3 separate regions of the Homo sapiens genome follow, and regions 2 and 3 are each linked to region 1. Evidence: fine-mapped expression QTL. A gene starts in region 1. Each other region holds a variant in brackets. All regions are shown on one strand. Distances are from middle to middle.

Region 1 (8,177 bases):
GATCTCATCCTCTTCACACCTGTTGGGATGGAGCCTCCCATGGATAGGAACTCTTCCTGGTTGATGCTCAGCAGATGACTGATCTGGCTCTGGAGGACAGCTCCAGGGGTATGAGGGAGGCCTGGCAGCCCACTACTCCCTCCTCACCTGCTCGGGCCCTGCCTGCTGGGCCCTATTGTCTGGGTCTGGGGGCCCTTTCCTGCCCCATGTGAACTTGATTCCTCCTCGCGTTTCTGCCGGTGACCAGACAGAGCCTGGCCTGGGCCAAGTCCCCACTGACCACACTTTCCCCAAGGCTGGGTCTCAAAGGACCCTACAGGATGGGGACAGGAACAAGGATGGGAGTCGGGGAGGGGCTGTCAGGCAGAGGGCAGATGCAGCTCCTCGGGTGCCGCTGGCTGGAGTCCTTTGTCTCCATTTGCTCAGTGCGTAATTGTCATTTTGTGGGGGACTTCCTTGGTGGGGCTTTTCCATGCTTTTCCTCTCCCTGATGGTTACAAAGAGGAGACAGTCAGGATCTGGGAGGAGCTGGAGCCTTCCCCCTGTGCTGTTGAACTCTGGGAGGGGCAGCCAGAGGGGCTGAGAGTGCACCATCCTGAAAAGAGAGGGTCTTTAAGAGATAAGATTTAGGCTAGGGAAATTCACTAGAAAGAGACAGGTGGCCCTGGGTTTTTTTTCCTGCCATCCAAAGGGAACCAGTCTTACCCAAAGGCTTAAGGGGTCACCTTAGCCCAGTCTCAGGACACTCTTCTCCAATCAGATCGCTGCTTCTAGTTGCACTGCTCCTGGATTCTGTTCTTGGGGAACAGAAGGTGGCAGGACAGGCCCCACAATCTGCAATTCCAGCTCCCTCCAGAGGAGACAGTCCCAGCGTTTGCAAGAGAGCAGCTTGTGGCCTCCCTTAGGCAAGTTTAAAAGCCAGATGTCCTTTTTCCCAGAATGCGGAGTGGTGTGTACTATTCATCAGCTTGGGCTGCCACAGCACCATGCCAGACTGGATGGCTTAAACATCAGGAATTTATTTTCTGCCAGTTCTGGAGGCTGGAAAGTCCAGATCAAGGTGTTAAGACTTGGTTTCTGGTGAGGCCTCTCTCCTTGGCTTGCAGGTGGCACCTTCTCACTATGTCCTCACATGGCCTTTTCTCTGTGGAGAGGGACAGAGAGCATGAGCAGGCTCTGGTGTCTCCTCCTCTTCTTATAAAGACACTAATATCACCATATTAGGGCTTAAACCTATGACCTCATTTAACCTTAACCCCTTAAAGGTCCCATCTCCAAAAACAGTCACATAGCAGGCTACTGCTTCAACATATGCATTTGGGGGAGGGGACACCATTCAGTTCTTAACAGGGTGGTCACCGCAAACATGGAAAGTCAGAGCCTTCTCCCCTTCAGAATTCCCGCCCCCACCCAGGGATGGGGAGGAGGAGCAGAGAGGTATGGGAAGCAGACACGGAGAGTGGCAGGTACCATGCTGGGGTGGCTCAGGAGTGCTTCGGAGGACATATGGAACTGGCAGGGCTCAGTGCAGGGAGGCGGAGGCCCTGGGAGAGCCGTGTCCTGAGAAGGGCCTGGGCTACAACCCTGGGCAAGTTACTTCACCTCTGAGCCTCCGATGCTCTGTGAAATGGAAGGAATGTGCTTGCCTGTCAGGTGCAGGGAGAATTCAGTGAGATTGTGTGCCTAGCACAGTGCCTGACTCCCAGTAGGTGCTCAGCAAATGCTCCCATCCATCTGGGAGTATAGACTTAGGGTTTATCTATTTTTTTTTTTTTTTGGCTCTCTGGACTTTAAAACTCAGCATCTTCTGAACCAGAGGCATTTCTGATTAGCCCTTCCCTACCTATTTTCCTAGTATCACTCTTTAATCAGCTTGGGGAGGTGGCAGCATTTCATGGCCTCCGTAGTAACTCACAATGCTTCCTGGGGTATTTAAATTCTACTCTCTCATCAGCACTGAGCACCTACTTTGGGCCCTTTCCCGTGCTAGCCATTTGGGGGAAATATAGGTGAAGAGTGGCTGGGGTTTGAACCTTTAGGATTTCACAGCCATGCTGGATGGGATAAAACCAGCTCACATGGAGAATCAGAGAATGGGACAGTGCCACAAAACAGTCTACTGAGGCACAAGTTCTGAGTGCCTGGGAAGTGGTAGAGAGACCCCAGAGAGGGCTGCTGCAGTCTGGAACAGCTTCCTAGCAAGCTGTACCAAACAGGGCCTTGAAGGATGAGAAAGATCTGGCTGAGATGATACCCGACCCTCTAGGGAAATTCTTAAAGTAACTTCTAGGAAATGTCATTGCTCCTTAAAAAAAAAAAAAAAAAAAAAAAAGCAGGTTCTAATTCAAATTCCGCTGCACTACTGAAGTAGTGCAGGACTTATCAGAACCTTTAAAATGCTAATGGCAATTTCAAATACTCAGGGACAGGGCATAGGATGAAGTGTTCCTTGACTTTTATGGCCGTAGAATCTTTTTCTCATGGAACATCGTTTAGAACTGTGGGAGATGCTAGGCTGGGGTTTCTATGGGAAAAGTACAGCAGTGATAGAAGATGGCATAATTAGGGTACACTTAGGTGCTTTGTAGCATTGGCTGAAAAGGAAGCAGACCGGGTGGGCGTGGGGGAGTCTCAACTTGGTTCCAGGAGCCAGGCCAGCTTGATGCGTTTTTTTTTTTTCTAATGGTGGGAGGGCAGGCCAATAGTTGGAGAAACTAGAGGCCTGACAGTCGGTGATGGAAGAGATGTCTACTAAGCACGGTTGTCAGATCTTTTGCGGAGAGATGCGGGTGTGCGTGTGTCTGTCAGAGTGTAACAGGATCCAGCCCTCTGGGAAGGGGCTGACCAGAACCAGGCAGGGGGTTTCTGTCTAGGACAAGTAGGGTCCATTTTCAGGGGAGCTGAAATATTTGCAGGGGGTGCTCTGAGACCCACAGCCAATAAATAGGGAAGCAACATGCTTTTGGGCAGGGTCCATGTGGTTAGGGTTGATTTTGATGGGGCTGGGGGGCTTAGAGTTAGACCCCCTGCCCTGGTCAGGCCCCACTCCCTGGCTGGTGGGGGCGGGAGGCCTCTGAAGCTGCAGCTGGAGGGGCCGGGGCAGTGTTGCATGGTGTGATTAACCTACTAACCCAGGGCTCAGCCGGGACGCTGTGGCGTGTGACGAGGTGCCTGGCCTTCTGCCAACCAACTAACCCACTAACCAGGCCCGAGCATGCCCTACTAACCACCCCCCCGCAGCCAGATCCTACTAACTGTGCAGCTCATGGGCCTTTCAAGGGGCTGGGATATGGGGGCAGCCAAGGCTCCAGAAGGCTCTGCCTATGGGCTGGGATCTTTGTGCAGACCCACGTTCCAGGACAGAGAATGCAAATAAGACTCACCAACTCTGCCACTTCCTGTTGAGTGAGTTTGAGTAAGTCACCTCACTTCTCTCAACCTCAGTTTCCTCAGTGGTAGAATGCGAGTTCTGATACCTTACAGGTTGCAGTGAGGATTCCCGTCAATATAAGGGTCTCAGCACATGGCAGACACCTAAAAAAAAAAAAAGTATGAGGATGGAGGAAGGCCCCTCAAACCTGGTTGAACACGTCTGCTGCCTAGGCCCTGGCCTCTCTGGGTGTTCTGCACACAGATCCTTCTGCCTGGGGCAAGACACTTGGCTTTGAATCCATGTCACTTCCCCACATTCTTCCTCCGTCTCAGCTTTCTTTTCTGTAGGCAGCTCTTTTGTTCGATTACTAACCCGTCTAACCCCTGGGGTGCCTCAACTGCACCCCGATCATCCCTTAACAAACTAACGGACCTGCGTGCGTTCTTCCTTTTCTCTTAGCGACTCCTGTGTGTGTCTGCTGAGGTGCCCTGTCCGCTGGTGCTGTGCTCTGACTTACTAACCCAGCCCCTACTAACCCTGTTTTCTCTTCTTACTAACCCCAGCCCTGCCGAGCTCTGGGCTCCCCCCGGGGGCTGGTCCCCCTCCTTTTGGCAAGCAGATGACCTGGGGCTACTGGCCCTGTAGACAGATGTCCCACTTTGCTGCCCCATATTGGCTGTAAGATCAGAGTCCACTGGGCCAGGTCTAAGGCAGGGGATGGCCCTATTAACAAGACTCAGAGGAGGAAGAGGTGGTCCTGTGGATGTGGGAGGCTGGACTCTGAGTATGACATCTCTCCTATGTGCAGAAGTCTGGTTGCCACTGGGAGTAGGTGGGACCAGGGAAATCTCTGGGACGTGAGTGTGGAGGCCTGTTGGTCTAGACTCTAGACTGTGGAGCTCTGAGCTTTTGTGTCCTCTGGAAGGAAGCTGGGGAAGAATCCTCTCCATTGTTAAGTGACGGGGATAGAAGCTGTCCTGCACAGGAAGTCACGAGGGGGGCGTATCCCACGAGGAAGGCAGGAGGGGGCGTGCCCCTCACCGGAAATTAGCAGAGGGGCGTGTCCCACACCGGAAGTCAGAAAGCGGAGCCTTTCTTACACCGGAAGTCAATGAAGCGGGTCTTTCCTACGCTAAAAACCACTGAGTGGAGTATTTAGTACACAGGAAGTCGGCCAGAGAAACATTTCTCATATTTGAAGGCCGGAAAGAGGGACATTTCTGACACCGGAAGTCAGTGAGAGGACTCTTTCCCACACAGGAAGTCAGCTAGAGAGCCGTCTCCCCTCTCTGGAGCCGAGAGAGGCCGGTTTCCCCCACCGTAAGTAGACGTGGGGCCGTGACCGGAAGTCCTTGGGAAAGATCCGTCCCATTCCCGGAAGCTAGAGGGCGTTAGTTGTCGGGTTGAAAAGGGGTGTGGGGAGGGGAAGCAGCTTTACCCCGGGCTCGGAGTTTGCAGGAGAGAGAAGTGGGGAGCAAGAAGTGAACCTCAGGGGCTCACAGGGTTCCCGCAGATGCTCAGGCCGGCCAGGAATGCATCTCTGGCTCTCTGTTCCCACGGACGTCACTGCCTCAGCCAGCCTCCCCCAGAGCCCGCCAGCCGCTAAGCCGGGGCCACACCTGGGGGTGATTTCATGCCTCACCTCCAGTAGGCACCTTGGTTTCTTTGGGCTAATCTCTGGCTCCCTTGCGCTAACTCTTGCTCTCACCCAGCTAATCCCTGCCTCACCCTGACTGCCCCAGGGGCTGACCACTAACAACCAACCTGGCCCTGTCTGGGGGTTCCAGGCTCCTGGCCTGGCCCTGACCGGTTCTTAATTAACCTTTCCTTCACCTTGACTAACTCCTGCCTTCCTGGTCTGTTCCTTTCAGCAGAAACTAATGGTTTGTGGATTTTTTTCTGACTAACAACAGGTCTAACATTCCTCGTTACTGTTAACAGCTTGGATGTCGGCATGGCTGGGAAGGGGCTAACACAGCTTTGAACTTGGCTAACACAGGTTTGAACTTGGCTAACACAGGTTTGAACTTGACTAACACAGGGAAAAGCATAGCTAACAATTTTGGGCGTGGTGGCTGCTCTGAGTCAGAACAATCAGAAGTCGGTAAAGATGGTAGTTTTCTAAAGGAGGTGCCAGGGCTCTGGTGTGGACCAGGCCTGATGGAGCAGTGGTACCCACCAAGGTGGGGTCAGAAGTATAGCCAGTCTTGCAAGGTTTTGGCCATTGGGCATATCTTCACTCCTCATAGTCTGCATTTGGTTTCAGTTCTTAAAAAAATATAGCCTTATAGCTACAGTAGTTTGCACAAGTAGATGCAGCTCTTATAAACCTTAAAATACCTGTCTGGTGTCTACAGAGCATATGCCATTTTGTATAGAGTCACCCTTCCCCAGGCCAGGGCCTAGAGTCTTCATTTTGGGGACTTTGTGTTTTGGAAGTTCTAGGACATAAAGCTTTAGATCAGAGTATTCAGAAGGGTTATAACTCCGTCAGTCATTTACATGTTAGTAGTATAAATTATCTGAGCTTCCTGTTCTAACTTTTAGCTCTTCTAGCATAAACTCTTCTGTGCAATTTAGCTGCACCGAGGAAACGGGAGTTTTTCTGGAAGGGACTTTTGATCTCTTTAGACTGAGGGAACGTCCTTTGGGAGTAGAGGGGCAGGGAGCATACGCAAGGGATTCCAGGTGCAGGTAAAAGGTGGCACTAGTTCAAGGTTTTGCTGACTCAGTCTGGTAGTCAGAGTCTGCAGGAGAAGACAGTTCAAGGCAGGGCCTGGAGGATTGGATCAGTTTAGGGACAGGTCAAAGGCTGGCTTACAGACCTTAGAGGCAGGTTGCTTGGGTCGTTGAATGCTAGTCTGGTGCTGAGAGCCCTTTTCTCTGGCAACTGTGGACTCAGAGCTAACCAATTGTAGTTGGCAGTGGGGGTGAAGGGTGATCCAGAGGCCTGAGCTGCAGAGGGCACAAGAGAGAAAAGATGTCTTAGAAAGAGCTTTGAGAACATGCCTTGGCTGCTGGCAGGGACCTTGGATGGGGTAGTCTACACCCGGAAGTGCCTGCCTGCCATCCTCTAGTGGCTGCCTTGCTCCATTTCACTCAAAGCAGGAAGCTCACACCTCCTATTCCTGAAACTCCTCTTTGTTTAACTGCAAAGACTTGATGCTGCTAAGGATCTACTATGTGCCAGGCACTGCTCTGGGCGCTGGGACCTGCACCTGGGCTTTTTCGTCATGGTGCTTTTATAGCCTAGTGGGAGAGTTGGTGAAGTAGATAGTGATTCAGTGAGATGGGTGTTATGATTGGTCAGGGGTCTGTGGGAGCACCAAGGAGACAGACAAGATTGATGTGCACCTACTCTGTGCCAGGCGTGTGCCAGGCATTGGGGATGTAGTGGTAGTTAAACACCATTTGGTCTTCAGGAGCTTTAATTCTAGTGTGTTGGGTGCAGGGGGGTGGAATGGGGACAGAGAGACACCTAATCCACCCTGTGGTGGCTTTCTGGAGAGGGAGGCATCTAAGCTGAGCTGTGGCTGGGTGGAGTGTGGGTGGGGATGAGTTCCGGGCAGCGAGAGTGGTGGACACCAGTTTCTGGGGATCAGAGAGGATCCAAAGAGGTTCTGGAAGGTTCATGTGGAATGTAGCAAGAGATAGGAGACATGGACATGGTGCCGGGTCTGGTTGCCAAGAAGTTTAGATTTTATCCTTAGGCCTTGGGGAGCGACGGATATGATCTGAGAAAGGGAGTTAGTGGATTTGAGTTTTAGGCTGGCCATTTGGCTTTTCCAGCCCAGGTGGAACTCAGAGGAGTTTGCAATGGCCTCTGGCCACATTTTAGACAACTGAGCAGAACTTTTTGAAACTAGGAAGACCCTTTGGTCCATCTTTTGATAAACAGAATCCATACATGTCTACCCCAGTTGGAAGTATCTCTGCAATGACTGGAAAGTAAAGAGGACCAAGGTGAAAATAAAGGCTCGGAAGGGGAGCAATCTTGAAAACATGTCATCCCATGGTGGTGGGAAGTCCCTGGAGAAGATCAGGGGAAACACAGTCATAGGCTGCAAGTCTATAAGATAATTCCATTGGGGAGGGAGCCCATTTGTCATGCATGGCTGCAAGGGGCAGATACAAGTGTGGAGTAAGCTTGCAAGAGCTGATCCTGGTCCCAGAGAGGGAAAAATATGCCTTGGTGGGTAATGAACCTTTTGTTCCCAGAGGCAGAAGGATTGGGACTAGGCCAACATAGAGATTGGCGATGGTTGTGAGATTCTAAGAGTGTGTGTGCATCTTGACAATATTAGAGGAGGCTGAGCCCAAGCAGGCACATTCTCTTCGACCCCTCCCTCATTCAGTCTGCTTTGGAGTCTACTGAACATCAAGCTTGCTATGAGCAGGATCTTAGAGCTGAGGAATTGGCCTCCCAATCCGAACAGGTGTTATAATCCTTTCTTAATAGGTTGTGCTGTGGACCCAATGTGAGGGCTGTGCTGGTGTAAATGGTGACATGTTGAGCTGGGGGGATGCTTTCGGGGTGGGGGGACTGGTTCCATTCCATCAAAGGCCCTCTTGAGAGTCTATCCAGGGACCCATTGTTTTACTTTAACAGACCAGAAAAGATGTTTGTTTTCCATGTCATTACCCCCAGGGGATACCGAATGTGTGGGTAGAAATTTCTCTGTAGATTAAAAATCAGATTTTTACATGGATTCAACAAAGGAGCGTCACTTGGATTTTTGTTTTCATCCATGAATGTAGCTGCTTCTGTGTAAAATGCCATTTTGCTATTAAAAATCAATTCACG
Region 2 (8,177 bases), 78 kb after region 1:
TGACTTGCCCAAAGCCACACAGCTTAAACCCAAGGCTAGTTGACTTTGAAGCCCATACTTCAAACACACCCTCTCTGTATCTTTATCTTATTTAGAAGGTAAAACAGCCACAGGACCTTTTCAATGACAATTCCTTGCCATTTTCCTCCCAGGGTCACCTTCCAGCCGCAAAGCCACAACACTCCCACTTCCTTTGCCTCCCTTGGCTCTCACAGAGCTTGGCTAAATCCAGTGCTAAGACTGAGTTGTCAAACAGGAGATAGAAAGAGAGAAAAAGCAATTTCTTCCATTTCTTGGCTCAATCCTATGCAGTCAATACTGTTAACAGTAAATCAAATAACAAGACTGCATTGACCCAGGAAAAGGCCAAGAAGAAAAAAATTCAGAGCAGAATCCAAAAAAGTAGAAAATAAAGTTCGGCCATAGGCATAAATCATACCTGGAGAACTGAGCCCACAGCACCAGCCTCAGGATGAGCCTGAGCTGCCCCCGAAAGCTGGGTCCCAAAGACCCCTGCTTTTGACTTTCAACTTTCTAGGACCCCTGTTTCTGGTAGATCCAGGGGAAAGGAGATCGCTCAGGGACGGGTTGAGGATATCTGATTTGCGGTCCCTCTGATTTGGGATGTCACTCCTCAACCCTGGGCTGAACTGGGAAAGGGGATCTGCAGAAAATGACTTTGGGAGAAAGTCCCCTTTGACTGCTCCCCTAACCCCTGCATTCCTTCTGGCATGCTGATCTTTTCAAGTTTCACAGTGCTGGATGCCGGCTCCAAAAAGAAAGAGGTTCACATGCTCTAAAAAGTATTCAATCTTGTCTGAGCCATGTTGCTGCCTGAACTATGGCTTCTTTAAATTAATGGAGTCATTCAACAAACATTTATGAAGCACCCACTGTATGCCAGGCATTGTTCTAAGGCCTTGGGGATTTAGCTGGGAACAAAATAGACACACATTCCTCACTTCACTGAAGCTACATCCTAGTGAGTGGTGGAAGATGATAAAACAAGGTTTGTATACTATGTTGGACAGTAATAGATGCTATGAGGAAACAAAGAAGGTAAAATGGGTTTCGTGTGTTTGTTGGGGATGGGGAGAGTCCAGTTTAGTTAAGGAAAAGAGACATTTGAGCAAAGACTTCAAAGGAGGCGAGGATGTGAGCCGTGGGGGTATCTGGGAGAAGGGTGTTTCAGGGACAGGGATCAGCAGGTGCAAAGGCTCTGAGGCAGGACGTGCTGGGGGCCTTTTGAAAAAAAGTGAGATATTACTGGAGGAAGTGAAGGGAGAGGGTGGCAGATGGTGAGGTCCAAGTTGGAGAGGTGACCAAGGGACCAGATTCTGTAGGGCCTCTGGGTGGATGCAGGGACTTTGGCTTTCCTCTAGGTGAAGTGTGGATTGTTGGGAAATTTGGAGCTGCAAAGGGACCTAATCTATTGGGTTTTAGCAATAAATGTTTACTTGTCAGTTTCTTCAGCCATGTGCTCTGACTAGTTAAGGTCATTAAAAAAATAGATGGAATTGCATGGGAATTTGTACATCCCTGAGAAGCACTCTCTGTGAAAATAACCTCCGATGCCCTGGCACATTCTTGGCTCTCAATAAATGCTCAAACATATTATTTGACCATAGAGAGAGGTCAGGATGGATGTTCAACAAAGAGTTAATGGTGCTTCCTTGGGAGAGTAGCTGGAATGAGTGTGGCAAGTAAAGGTTAATTATCTCTTTTATTTCTCTTTGTATTCATCAGATTGTTTTTTCAATTTTTATAGCTTTTTTGTTTTTTGAGATGGAATCTCACTCTGTTGGCCAGACTGGAGTGCAGTGGCGCAATCTCGGCTCACTGCAACCTCTGCCTCTCAGGTTCAAGTGATTCTCCTGCCTCAGCCTCCCAAGTAGCCGGGACTATAGGGGAGCACCACCACGCCCACCTAATTTTTGTATTTTTTGGTAGAGACGGGGTTTCACCATATAGGACAGTCTGGTCTCGAACTCCTGACCTCGTGATCTGTCCACCTCGGCCTCCCAAAGTGCTGGGATTACAGGCATGAGCCATTGTGCCTGGCCTATAGCTTTTTTTTTTTTTAAGGCAAGTTGAATGGGTGGGTGAAGACTAGGAGCTCTGTTTTGAGTTCTGTGACCTTGGTTCTGCCACTTGTGATTCTGAGCATTCATTTGCTCATATTTTTCACGAGTTAAAACTCTAAACTCTAATAGCTGCTTATGAAGTTTTAGGGGGGATAACAATGTAAATGGAATACGTTGTTCAGTGCCTGGCATAGAAATCAACGCTGATTTTAGTTTGCAAGGAGCCATGTAAGGTTTTTAAGGAGAGAAGTGAAGGCAAAAGATCTGGGTTTTAGAAAAAAGGATCACAGGGGTGTCCGTGCTAGTCTCCAACTACTGCTCTGAGCAAGCTTGGCCTCCTCCCTCTCCCTGGGCAGCTAGGGGCAGCTGGCCATTCCTTCTCCCCTTGATTTCCCTACCCCAGCCTAGTCTTCTCCACCCTTCCTGGGGAAAGCCAACCCCTTGCCTGGCAGGCCTCCCGGCAACCAAAGGACTTCTTTGAGGGAAGAAGCCACGTTACCCAGAAAAAATCAATAGAATCTTTTTCCAGGCAAATTTCAGAGACTTGTGAGAAGCAGCAGCAGCCTGGGAACTTGTCTCCCATTCAGCGTAGGAACCTCTTGCACAGCATTTGGCTATGAGGCCCTCAAAGTGGACACGTGTTCGTATCTCCTTTTCAGCAACTGCCCCGCTTTCTGGTAACAGCATGCCATCTTCCTTGAAAAGCCACCCTTGGCCATGCCAAGCCCAACAACATGGGTAGAGGTGACTCCTTCTCCTCCCTCACTGGAGGTAGGCATGGCCAGTGAACCAGGTCTGAGCCAATCGAGTACTGCTGCCCTCAGCCTACAGTGATTGATTCAGAGATGAGACTCAAGGAGGGCCAGCCGCAGGATTTTGGTTCAGTCTGATGATGTAACAGTCAGAGTGGACTGTGATATGCTGCAATATAACTAATACCTCCTAAATTCTCAGTTACAGTGACTCAGGTTTTTAAAAATTTTTTTTATTAATTTATTAATTTTATTTTTTATTTCAATTGGTTTTTGGGGAGCAGATGGTGTTTGGTTACATGAATAAGTTTTTAATGGTGATTTCTGAGATTTTGGTGCACCCCTCACCCCAGCAGTCTACATTATACCCAATGTGTAGTCTTTTATCCCTCACCCCCTCCCACCCTTTCCCGTGAGTCCGCAAAATTCATTCTGTCATTTTTATCCCTTTGTGTCCTCAAAGCTAACCTATCACTTGTAAGTGTGGAATGTTTGGTTTCCCATTCCTGAGTTACTTCACTTAGAATAATGGTCTCAAATGCCATCCAGGTTGCTGTGAATGCTTCGATTTTATTCCTGTTTATGGCCGAGTAGTATTCCATGGTGTATATATATCTATATATCACCTTTTCTTTATCCGCTCGTTGATTGATGGTCATTTGGGCTAGTTCCATATTTTTGCAATTGCGAATTGTGCTGCTATAAACATGTGTGGGCAAATATCTTTTTTGTATGATGACTTTCTTTTCCTCTGGCTAGATACCCAGTAGTAGGATTGCTGGATCAAATAGTAGCT[C/G]TACTTTTAGTTCTTTAAGGAATCTAGTGGCTCAGGTTTATTTTTTATTTTTTATTTTCTTATTTTTTATTTTTAGATGGAGTCTTGCTCTGCCGCCCAGGCTGGAGTGCAGTGGCACAATCTCAGCTCACTGCAACCTCCACCTTCCGGGTTCAAGCAATTCTCCTGCCTCAGCCTACCGAGTAGCTGGGACTACAGGTGTGCACCACCACGCCTGGCTAATTTTTTTTTTTTTTAATTCTAGTAAAGATGGGGTTTCACCATGTTGGCCAGGTTGGTCTCAAACTCCTGACCTCAGGTGATCCACCTACCTTGGCCTCCCAAAGTGCTGGGATTATAGGCATGAGCCACCGTGCCCAGCCTGGCTCAGGTTTTAATGGCACAGAGCAGCCAAGATTGATTTGCTGCTTGTGCTCTGTGTGCACGGTGTACGCCTCCGGGAAAAACCAAAGGGCAAAAACCAAGTCTTCACCAACCAAGCTGGTGGAGGCTCTGCTCCACATCCTTCTCATCCACAGACTCAGGCTGATGGAGACTCTATCACCTGGAACATCATCAGTTACCACCACAGGGGGGAAGGGAACGTGGAATCAGATGAGTCTGATGTCAAATCCTGACTTTGCTGTTTAAAGCAAGGGACATGCCTGACCTGCTGGGTCCATAGTTACTGCTTAGCTCCGAGAGTATTGATTTTCCCCCTGTCCAATGTCTTCAACCCTATTCATTGTGTATTCAACCAGGATTTTCAAGGCTTGACTCAAACACCTGCCATTCAGAGATTCCTTCTCAAACTCATCTCATGGCCAGCACCTCTCCGTCATCTTAGCACAGAGGGAAGCACAAAGTAGGGGCTGTGCTCAGTGCCCTGTCAGTGTCTAGCAAAGGCCTAAGCACTCAGTAGGTGCTATGCTCAGTGTCACCCAAGGTGCTTTGCAGTGTCAGGCACAATAGTGGATGTTATTCTCTGTACCATCGGCAATGCCCATCCCAGTACCAAGCACATAGTGTGCTCTTTCTTTGCTGTTTCCTTTCCCTGAGTGTTTCTAGCAGTGTGTCTCCAGGAAGTTATGCCCCAAGACACTTCCTCCAGGTCCTCAGCCTCTTGCACGTTGGGACTTGGAATGTGCCACCTGGAGCTGCTATCAGGGTGCAGTCGGCTGAAATAGGTGGGGTGAGGCAAGCAGTCCTTGAAAAGATGGTCCAGGGCTGTCCTTCCCTGTGGGGGTCATCTGGGGTCAGTGAGCAGCGACTTGGCTTATGCATTTCCTCCCAGGGCCCCAGACAAAGAGAGAGTCCTTGGCAATGCGGTTACCTTGACAACTCTTTGTGTTGGAGAGTGAGAGAGAGAGGGGGAGGAAGGCAGCTCAGGGAAGCGGGGTGGCTGCTGGGGGAGGGGGAAGGAGCAGGGAGGAGCTGGAGGAGAAATCCACCTTTAAAAGGGAAGAGAGAAATGACTCCACTTCTGGGCAGAGGGAAGGAAGTGTCTTTATGGTGCAGGATGGAGGCTGGTCTGGGTGGGACATCCTGCCTCTCCTTCTCACCCCATCTAGAAATTCTGCCAGCAGTCTTAACATCCAGAGAACTAGGTCTGAGTCCCAGCCCTTCTTCTAACTTTCTATGTGACTTTGTGCAAGTTACTTTCCCTCCCTGAATCTGAATTTCCTCTTGTATAAAATAGGGATAATAATCCACAAGGTGACTGTGAGCATTAGCTGAGCATTTCAGGTAAATGAATAGTAGTGGGCCCCTAGTGAGTGTTAACTCCCTGGGGGCCATTATTCATTTGGTATTTTCTTAGTGGTAACCTGGGCTTAGTCAAGTGACTCCCTCACCTTGGTCAGTCTCTTTACCCAAAAAGATTGTAGAATTTCTATGGAACTTGCCAGAAGCTAAGTGGGTGCTGCTGGTAGCTATGGTTACTGATGTTCCTGCCAGACTCTTGACATTGGTGGTGGGGGTGGGGGTGTCAACATTACTGGAATTATTAATTCAGAATATTATGGGTCATCATTGTGCAGAGGAGACCGATGCTCAGAGAGGGGTGGGGAGTCTGAGGTGTGCTTGAGGAAGAGACCTGGGAGAGGTGACCAGTGTGGGGGACACTATGTTGCCCAGCCCTCTGCATTCTGTGTCCGAGGGCCCCCCAGAGCCCCAGGACTTATCCTGACCCACCCCCCCAACCCTGTGTCATGCAAGCCCAAAAGCCAGCGTCTCTTCCTGGCTGCCCAGGACTGCTGAGATGCAGGAAGGTGGGCATCTGAGGTGTCAGTGGGAGACTGTTGGGGGTAGGGGTGGGAACCCTGGCTTCCTGAGAGCAGGAATGGTGGACATGTGGGACCCTTCTGCTGGGGTGGGGCCGGGTGCAGTTCCTCTCCTGCCTGAGGCACCCCATTCCATCACTTGCTGAGGCCTGAGCCCTTCAGCCACCATCTGGGGGATGCAGTCACAGCGGGAGATCGTGCTCCCCACTGTAAGTTGGCAGCCTGTTTATCAGTCTGGCCTAAGAGGTGCAGCTTTCCGAGTGATTTCCCAGATCCTGATCCACCCCAGAAAATGAGCACATGGAGTCTCGACACTCCCTGGGACCTCACTTAGCTCCCCAGAGCCCTTCTGTCTGTCTGTCCATCTCTCTCCTGCTTTAAGGAGTTGTCCTGTCCCTGGGCAGACAGACTCCCAGGATCTGCTGGGAAAGACCCGTTGGGCTCTGACCCCAAATGGTTTCTGATTGCTGGAGGGATGCACCTCTTAACAGCTATGTTCTATGCATGTTACCCGGGGGCAGGGGCAAACAGGAAGTGCTTCTGGTGTTCAGAGGGCTGGAGGAGTGAAGGGTGGGGGGCTGCCTGGAGGAGGTGGCATGCTTCTGGAACAGATGAAAGAAAACAGTAAGTGTCAGAGCCAGGTCCTTTCAGGACACTGTTAGTGGTGGACAGTGATGATCTCCATTTTACAGATGAGCAAACTGGGGCTCAGAGACATTAGGGACCTGATCCAGGTGGTCCAGAGGCCAAAGAGGCCAGGTTTGAAGCTGGGTCTGTTTGATCCAAACCTGGGGCTTGTTTCGTTGTGCCCTGGTGCAGCCCAAGATGCGCATGTCCAGGCGGAAGATGTAGCCAGGTTAGCGTAACATTGGGGATTCAGGAGGAGCCTGGTTAAGGGGAGTAGAGGGCATGAGAGGAGCGATACTAGCCAGGAGGGGGCAGATGGGAGAAGAGTTTGTATTTAATGCTGCTGGAAATCTGATGATGCCACTCCACTTGCATAAAACCCTCGGTGGCTCCCCAATACCCTTGCAAAAGCCATAAATCCTCACTAGGGCTTCAAGATCCACCTTGGCCCTGCTTCCCTCAGCAGCCTCATCTCTCCCTGTGCTGGCACATGCTCACTTCATCCCCTGCAGGTCCTCAGTCTCACTCTGGGACCTTTGCCTACCAACCCCTTCTCTCTGGAGTGTTCTGCCCCACTCCCCTGGATGACTCACCCCCCACTCATTCTCCTCATCTCCACCTAAATGTCACCTCCTCCAGGAAGACTTCCTTGATCTCCTGAGTGCTCGCAGCCCCCTCGGCTTTCCTGTCACTCCGATCTAATTATTATATCTTTAGTGTCTGTTCCATACCCCCTGCCTGCCCCCACCTTAGTCTGTGAGCCCCATGAAGGGCAAAAACCAAGTCTGTTTATCACTGGATCCTTAGTGCCAAGAATGAATGGTGCCGGCACATAGCAGATACCCAACTGAAATTTATTGAATAAATGCATGAATAAAGAATGAATGAGGTAAGAAACCAGTGAAATTTTAGGTAGGAAGAGTAAATTGACAGAAATTGGCTGGTCGTGGTGCAGGATCAGGGCAAAAGGAATACTGATTCAGACAGAATGTCACCCCACTGTGCCTCAAGCCCCCAAAGTGCCCCCGATTTCATCCCACTTCCTCTGTCCTTTGCGTGGAGGTGGGGAGGGGACTCAGCCGGGGCCCTGAAGACATCCCTGCCTTACTCCTCCCTCCCTTTCCCCCAGCCTCCACCTGTGGACTGGAACTCCAGGTACCTTAGAGGCACTCCTCAGCCCTGCAGCTTGCCAGGGGCACTGATTTCTGGAGAAAATCTTAATGGAAATCTCTCCAGCTATTTTTCTCTCTATGAGGAATTAGCAACCACAAAGTGCTGTTTTGCAAATGGTGGCCCTAAGAAGCTGCTTTCTCAGGGCTTCGGTGATCACCAGGAAGACCATCAGTTATTGAGCACCTGCTGTGTGCATTTTCCAGGAAGACCATCAGTTATTGAGCACCTGCTGTGTGCATTTTCCATGAACAGTTTCTGTTCTTTACCACCATCTTGTGTGGTTGGAAATTTCATTCTCTCCACTTTAGGAATGGAGGGAATTGGAACTCAGAGAGAAGAGATTTGCTGAGGTCATTCACTGGAGAAGGTTGGAAACCGTGTTCATGTCAAGGTCTGTCTCTGAAGTCCTTGAGTAACTTCAGGGTGGGCACCGGATCCAGCTGCTGTGGTTCAGGTGCGATTCCTCCACATACATCTACATCAT
Region 3 (8,177 bases), 23 kb after region 1:
CAGCTAGTCCCTGGTGACTTGGCAAGGAGGGAGCTAGAGGAATAAATAGGTTGACCTCAGTTTCCTTCCTCTCTTTCATCTTCTGTTGTTGCTCTCCGTTGGCTGATCTTAACAAGAGGCTGGAGGAAGGGGCACAGCCTATTTATGCAGCCAGTAGAGACCAACTTCTTAGGGACTGGGTAGGTTGGAGGAGGATGGACAGTGGATCAAGAGGGGTAAATAGATGATACGCCGCACAAGCAACTTCTTAGAGTCACACACCTTCTAGTGTTAGAGTTCAGATTCAAATTCAAATCTCTTTAAAGTCAGATCATACCGTGCACCCTTCCGTTTCCTGACAATCTAACAATCCAGTGAGAGACACACTTATATTTCTACTTCGTAAAGGTCCAGAGAGGTTAAGTAAATAAACCAGAGTCACACAGCTAGCAAGTGGCAAAGCTGGGATTCTAATTCAATTCCAAAACTTGACTTCCAACCTCTCCACCTCCATCGACCCATATATATCCACTGACCAATCTATTCATTCATCAGACTTTTACTGCATGTCTTAAGCTATGCACTGTGTTCAGAGCGGAATGAGATTCCATTCTTTTCTTTTCTTTTCTTTTCTTTTCTTTTCTTTTCTTTTCTTTTCTTTTCTTTCTTTCTTTCTTTCTTTCTTTCTTTCTTTCTTTCTTTCTTTCTTTCTTTCTTTTTCTTTCTTTCTTTCTTTCTTTCATCTTTCCATCTTTTTTTTTTGTTGACAGATTCCAGATTCTCCCTCTGTTGCCCAGGCTGGCTGGAGTGGAGTGGCATGATCTTGGCTCACTGCAATCTCTGCCTCCCAAGTTCAAGCAATTCTCCTGCCTCAGCCTCCCGAGTAGCTGGGATTACAGGTGTCCACCACCATACCTGGCTAATTTTTATATTTTTAATAGAGACGGGGTTTCATCCTGTTGGCCAGGCTGGTCTTGAACTCCTGACCTCAGGTAGTTTGCTCGCCTCGGCCTCCCAAAGTGCTGAGATTATAGGTGTGAGCCACTATGCCTGGCCAAGATGCCATTCTTATGTCCTCATGTTATTTACAGTCTGATGAAAGAAACGGACCTGTATACAGATTATCGTGCAGTGGAGGGGAACAGGAGCTTTAAGAGAGGAAAGTATAGTGCTCATCGGTGGGCATGTGGGAGGGAGAGGTCTGCTCAACTGGGGGAGCCTGGAAAGGCAGCATCCTTTTAAGCTGGGTTTTGAAGGATGCATAAGATCCCAAGGGGATGGTGCATCTTGGGAAGGTATGCTCATATCTTTTTAACCCAGCTGCCTCTCCTTTGCTGGAGCTTCCTCCTTCCAGGGCATGATTTGGAAGGACAGAGTTTTACTGTTATTGAGGACACAGAGTTCTCTAAAGTGCATAGCCCAGGGGATGGAATGGAGCAGGGGATGTATGTATGTGTGGAAAAAATCCACCTTGGTTTGAATTCTTGTCTGGCCATTTCTGAAATACATGACCTTATGGGGACCCTTCCCTATGTGGTCATCTCTACAGGAGATTTCATATCCCTACCCAACTGGTGTCAGGTTGGCCAGGTGACTTTCAGCCAATGGGATGAAAGTGAGTGGAGGTGGTATGTGCCACTTTTTGGCAGACACTGTAAGAACCCTTGTGTGGTCACCTTTTCCCTTCCCTCTTTGTGACACTATGGTAATTTTTACTATTTCCTAAGTGTTGTGCTTCACCTTCCCTTTTTACCTTGGCCTTGAGACCATCAGGTTTCCATAAGGGAGTTGCTCCCTTTGCCTTCATCCTGGAATGAAGTGAGGAGGGGCAGAGCAAAAACAGAGCTACAAGGGTTTGTCAGATTGCAGAGGAATGAATGATTGCTATCTAAGCCACCGAGACCTTTGAAGGCACCTGTTAGCATCACATAGTGTAGCCTAAGATGACCAAAACAGCAAGGTGTGTTGCCTTTCTGTGTGTTAGTTTGCTCAACTGTAGAAGTGCATTGATAGTTGTAGTTACCTTATGGAGGTCTGGTGAAGATTAGGTGGAATTCCTAAGTAAAAGTGCAGTTTCTAGCCTATAGTGTGTCTACACTTCGCAAATGTCTAAGACTCTTCTTCCAGTTCCTTGTCTCTGCTGTACTTACTTCTACCCCAGGGCCTGTGCACATCCATGCTGTTCTCTTTGCCGGGGGTATTCTGTCTTTCCCTCGTTCCCTTCTTTACTCAAAATCCCATATGCAGACCTAGCTCCTCCAGGAGGTCAGCTAAGGATGGGCTTGGAGCTCAGGAAAGTCAGGTCATGAAAGGGATGAAAAAGGTTGCACTTCAACAACCAGAATCAGGAAATCTAGAAAACAGTTCCTTTAACATCAACATGCACACATATTTTGGGTTTTATGGTTTTGCATTGTTTTAATTTCAGTTTACATAGGAGATTGCAGAGGGGGCTCCCTCATCTTTTCTAAGCTTAAGGCTTCTGAAGATCTTTACCTGTTCCTGTCCACAGATAGCAGGGCTGGGAGAAAGGGATGGGGAGAGTCCCTCCTGCCACTGACCCAGGATGGATAAAAGTACCCCTTTCATAGAAGGAAGAAAATGGGAACAAAGGTGCTGCTGATCATCTGAGGTTGCCTGCATGGCAGTGAAGAACATGGACCTTTGGGTGAGGCTACCTGGATTTAATTGTTGGTTCTGCCATTTACCAGCTATATGAGCTTGGGTGTGTCATTCTTTACCACTGAGCCTCACTTTTTACATTCATAAAATGGGAATAATTATACCAGCTTGCTGGGTCATGGTGAGGACAACTAAGGCGAGTGCCCATAGTGAAGCCTATATAAAGATGGCTGATTGTTCGGTCATTCCTTATTTATTGAATGTCTGCTATGTGCCAAGTTCCATGAGAGGCACTGGAGATGCAGAGATGACCAGGACAGACTAGATCCTTGCTCTCAAGATTATGTATTTGTAAATAAACATATAATGAGTCAGATTGCAGCAAGGGATATGGAGAAAAAAGTCAGGGTAACTGTGGAAAGTAACGGTGGATCAGATTTTATTTTATTTGGACATAATTGACAAATAGATTGACCAATACCCAAATATAATTGGGTAATGTTTAAGGGGTACAACTTGATGCTGTAATATACATATATGTTGTGAAATGATCCTTATAGTCAAGCTATTTGACACGTTCATCGCCTCACATAATTGTCTTTTTTTGTGGTGAAACCTACCCTCTTAGCAAATTTCAAATATATATTATTAACTGTAATCATTATGCCATACATTAGATCTCCAGAACTCATCCATCTTGCTTAATTGAAACTTTGTACCCTTTGACCAACATCTCATTTCCCTGTCCCTCCAACCTCTGGCAACCAGTATTTTAGTCTATGTCTCTATGCTTTGACTCTTTTAGATTCCAAATATAGGTGAGGTCATACAGTATTTATCTTTCTGTGTCAGACAAATTCTGTTTTAGAAAGCGAATTCAGAAAAGACTTCTCTAAGGAGGTGACATTTGAACAGGGACCCATGCACCAACGCTACATAACAAATGGCCACAAACTGAAAGCAGCATATATTTATTATCTTACTGTGTCTGAGGGCCAAGAACCTAGGCTGTGTCCTCTGCTTCAGAATCTCCTCTAAAACCTATAGTCAAAGTATTGGTTGGGGCTGTAGCCTCACTTGAAACTCAACCGGGGAAGGATCCACTTCCAAACTCATGGGGTTGTTGGCAGAATTCAGTTCCTTGTGGGCTGTAAGACTGAGGGCCTCAGTTTCTTGCTGGCTATAAGATGGAAGCAGCCCTCACTGCCTGGCTGTTTGTTGGCCAGAGGCTACTGCACATGGCCCACCCCAGTGTGGCTGCTTGCTTCATCAAAGCCAGCAAGGAGAGTCTCCTAGCAAGATGGGCATTAATTACAGTCTTATATGATGTAGTCATGAGAGCAGCCTCCTGTCCCCTTTATTGTATTCTTTCCTCTGTGGGTTTTTTTTTTTTTTTTTGAGATGGAATAATCTTGCTGTGCCACTCAGGCTGGACTGCAGTGGTGCAATCACGGCTCACTGCAACCTCCACCTCCCGGGTTCAAGTGATTCTCC[T/C]GCCTCAGCCTCCTGAGTAACTGGGATTGCAGGCATGCACGACCACACTGGGCTAATTTTTTTGTATTTTTAGTAGACACAGGGTTTCACCATGCTGGCTAGGCTGGTCTCCAACTGCTGACCTCAAGTGATCTGCCTGCCTCAGCCTCCCAAAGTGCTGGGATTACAGGCATGAGTCACCATGCTGGGTCCTCTTTATTGTATTCTATTGATTAGAAGCAAGCTCTTGGTCCTGCCCATATGTAAGGGTGGAGGTTATACAAATGGGTAAATACTGAGAGGTGGGGGGCATTGGGAGCCCCTTTGAGTCTATCTGCCATGGCCTATGTGAGGTAGATGGAGTGAGCAGAGTGGAGACCTGACCTGCCAGGTAGAGGGAGACAGCAGGAGCAAAGGCCCTGAGGTGGGATCCTGCTTGATGTGTTCAAAGATCAGCAAGGAGCTGAATGAGAGAGGGGAGGATAACTCATGTAGGGCCTTGTAGGTAAGAGCTTGTCTTTTGGATTTTATTCTTGGGCGTGCTGAGGAGCTACTGGGTGGTTTCCCAGTCCATCTATTTATTTATGTTCCTAGATTTTAAGAGTTGTGGTGAAAGACACATAACCTAAAATTTGCCATTTTAACCTTTCTAAAGTGGACAATTCAGTGGCCTTTAGTCCATTCACAAGGTTGTATAAGCATCATCACTATCTGGTTCCAGAACATTTTCATTACCCTGAAAGGAAATCCCACAACTATTAGCAGTCACTCCCCCTTGCCTCCTTCCCGCAAAACCTAGGCAACCACTAATCAGCTTTCTGTCTCTATCAGTTTGACTATTCTGGGTATTTCATATAAATGGAATTGTACAATACATGCTTGGCTTCTTTCACTTAGCATGTTTTCAAGGTTCATCCATGTTGTCGCATGTATCAGTATTTCATTCTTTTTTTTTTTTGAGACAGAGTCTCGCTCTGTCGCCCAGGCTGGAGTGCAGTGGTGCGATCTCGGCTCACTGCAACCTCCGCCTCCTGGATTCACGCCATTCTCCTGCCTCAGCCTCCTGTGTAACTGGGACTACAGGCGCCTGCCACCACGCCCGGCTAATTTTTTATATTTTTAGTAGAGTTGGGGTTTCACCGTGTTAGCCAGGATGGTCTCGATCTCCTGAGCTCGTGATCCGCCTGCCTCAGCCTCCCAAAGCGCTGGGATTACAGGCGTGAGCCACCGCGCCCGGCCTATTTCATTCATTTTTATGGCTAAATAATATTTCATTGAATGTATATATCACATTTTACTTATCCACTCATCTGTTGATGGATATTGGAGTTTCCAACTTTTGGCCACTGTGAATAATGCTGCCACGAACATTGGTATACTAGTATCTGTTTGAACACTTGTTTTTAGTTCTTTTGGGTATATACCTACACACACATGTGTTGAATTGCTGGTAGGTTTAAGTCATTGAGAAACTGTCAACCATCTTTTAAAGTGGCTGCACCATTTTATATTTCTACCAGCAGTGTATAAAAGTTCCAGTTTTTCCACATCCTTGCCAATACTTGCTATTATCGTTTTTTTTTTAATTATAGCTATTCATAAGGGTGCAAAGTGAGATTTTACTGTGGTTTTGATTTGCATTTTTCTGATGAATGACATTGAGCATCTTTTCATGCGCTTGTTGGCCGTTTGCATATCTTCTTTGGAGAAATGTCTCTTCGGGTCCTCCGCCCATTAAAAAAATGGGGTTGTTTGTCTTTTAGTTGTTGAGTTGTAAGAGTTCTTCATATCGATTTATTTTTATTGAGCTATTATCACCGCTGTGGTTGTTTCCTCAGTAGGGCTCTGTCTGAATCCCCAGGCATCATGAATGTCCTCTGCTTAGAAGGAAAGGGACTATAAATGCCCCTTCTCTTGAGTAACCCACTCACCGACTTGTCTGCATCAACTTCCCTCCAGAGAGCAGAGCTAATAATCCCCTTTCTCACTGGCCTCAGCCCTCCTTGAAAATTACTCTGAAGGCTCCCTGGAGTCCTCTTACCTAAATGCCTCCCCCGGGGCTGCTTAGATGGCTTTGTGGGGGGCTCTCCAGCTGGGAGAAGGAGATTCTCTGGGGAAGAGCACAGGCTTCCAGCTCCCTAGACCTGTCTCACCTTCCACCCCTGGTGGGTTAGAGACTCTGGGGACTCTAGGATGAGCCCAGGGTTCTGCCTGCATCAGGCCTGTTTAGCCTCTGGCTTGTTGCTGAGGCTTAGGGACAAATTAGGAACTTAATCCAGCCAGGAAAACTTGTAAGCACTGTGCAAGGAGTCAGAGAGAGCCCTGTGGCTTCTGGTCTGTGGTCCGCCACCATGAGACTGGGGTCCCTGGACCTCATCTCTGAAATGGGCTTGCACCTGTGTTGGAAGGAGCCCGTTTGAACCTTTCAGATTCAGGATTTTGTGATGGGCTTAAAAAATATTTTATTTAGAATATCTCCTCCTCTAAGAAGCTCATATCCCTCTAATTGCATTAGGTGACTGCGCAGCTACCTGAACTTATTCTGTCTCAGGTGTATCTTTTTGGTTGTGATTACTTCTTTATACATCTCTTACTCTTATTTGATTGCCAGAGGGTGAAGCTGATCATTTCAGTTTTTCTTAGAATTCTTTGAGGATTTCCCATTGCCTTAGGGTGAAGACCAGATCCTTACCTGGATGGGTTTTCATTGTCTCTCTCCTTTTTCTTTTTTCTTAGATGGAGTTTTGTTCTTGTTGCCCAGGCTGGAGTGCAATGGCATGAACTCAGCTCACTGCAACCGCTATCTTCTGGGTTCAAACAGTTCTCCTGCCTTGGCCTCCTGAGTAGCTAGGATTACAGCCGCCCACCATGCCCGACTAATTTTTTTGTATTTTTAGTAGAGTTGGGGTTTCACCATGTTGGCCAGGCTGGTCTCGAATTCCTGACCTCAGTTGATCCACCCGCCTCGACCTCCCAAAGTGCTGGGATTACAGGCATGAGCCACCGCACCTGGCAATTGTCTCCTTTTTCACTGTCACTTTGCATGGCACTACCCGTTGATCTCTCTAGTCCAGCCAAAAGGGTTGCCTTTGGGTCCTTGGTGCGTCCTACCACAGGGCCTTTGCACATGCTGTTCTCATTACTTGGATGCCTTTTCTTTCCCTCCTCATCTTCTTTACTTCTTCTTTAGATTTTAGTGCAAGCTTCACTTCTTTAGGGAAGCCTTCCTGGATTCCCCAGATTAATTCAAATTCACGTTATCAGCTCTGTGGACCTCCCCTCAGAAGATACTATGTTACCTTCATTTTAGGATAAATAATTGTTTCACCTTATTTACAAAAGAATCTGAGAGCAGGGACTCTGAAAGCAGGGACTCTGAGAGCAGGGATCATGCCTGTTTGTCCTCCATTGTAGCCCCAGTGCCTCGCCCAGTTCCTGGAGGAGAGTAGGTGTTAAATAAACCTGTGTTGAATGGCAAACAAATCTCTGTGCTATCGGAGTCTAGGTCAGGGCCTGGCATGTAGCAGGCACAAAACACCTGGTTCCATTTTTGTTGAATACATGAATGGTTTCTCTGAAATGTGGTGGATCCAACCTCTGCTTCTGTGTGGCCTCAACTGCATGTGCACTGGGACAGACAGATCTGTGTTGGAATGCGGGCTCCTTTATCTTCCAGCTGTTACCTTGGGTGCATCTTTTCCTTCTTGGAGCCCTTTTCTTGGTCTGTTCACAGGGGATCTTCATTAGGAGGTGCTGAAGGGATTTCACGGCTAATGGTTTTGTAGGCCCTCTGTTAACTGAAGCCCTTTGCAAATGCCCTTGAAGAAATGCTGTTTCTCCCAACATCTTCCACGGAGATTGGTGCTCAGACCAAGGTGGGTGCAGAGCTGATGTCTCCTCCTCTACCAGTGGTGCTTGAAAAATGGTGGCATGAGGCTGAATTTCCCCATGCTCTGAATGACTGGGGAGAGTGGCCACAAATCTGAACAGCCCAGATGTAATTTCTGACTCTGGGCACCTGTGTCTTGCAGAAGGGAGGAAGGTGGACAGATTTAGCTGCAGGATGCACAGTGCGCTGCTTGGGTCCTGTCTCCCTGCTTTAT

The links. PIP is the estimated chance that this variant, and not a neighbour inherited with it, causes the effect.
Region 2: its variant is fine-mapped to the expression of MIATNB in whole blood (INTERVAL, PIP 0.97).
Region 3: its variant is fine-mapped to the expression of MIATNB in whole blood (TOPMed, PIP above 0.99).

The regions. Positions count from the first base shown.
Region 1 is chr22:26,668,295-26,676,471 of GRCh38, forward strand. MIATNB (MIAT neighbor) reads left to right here and starts at 4,549. Exons shown (of 6, transcript NR_110543.1): 1 at 4,549-4,693. It overlaps MIAT (myocardial infarction associated transcript), which reads left to right. Exons shown (of 5, transcript NR_033320.3): 5 at 1-8,177. RefSeq lists enhancers at 1-282, 283-865.
Region 2 is chr22:26,746,515-26,754,691 of GRCh38, forward strand. All of the region lies in intron 2 of MIATNB (MIAT neighbor), which reads left to right. Among named protein-coding and RNA genes, the nearest start is that of MIATNB, 78 kb to the left of the region's middle. RefSeq lists enhancers at 4,500-5,497, 5,498-6,496, 6,497-7,494. The variant C/G (reference allele first, on the strand shown) is at 3,633.
Region 3 is chr22:26,691,190-26,699,366 of GRCh38, forward strand. All of the region lies in intron 1 of MIATNB (MIAT neighbor), which reads left to right. Among named protein-coding and RNA genes, the nearest start is that of MIATNB, 22 kb to the left of the region's middle. The variant T/C (reference allele first, on the strand shown) is at 4,096.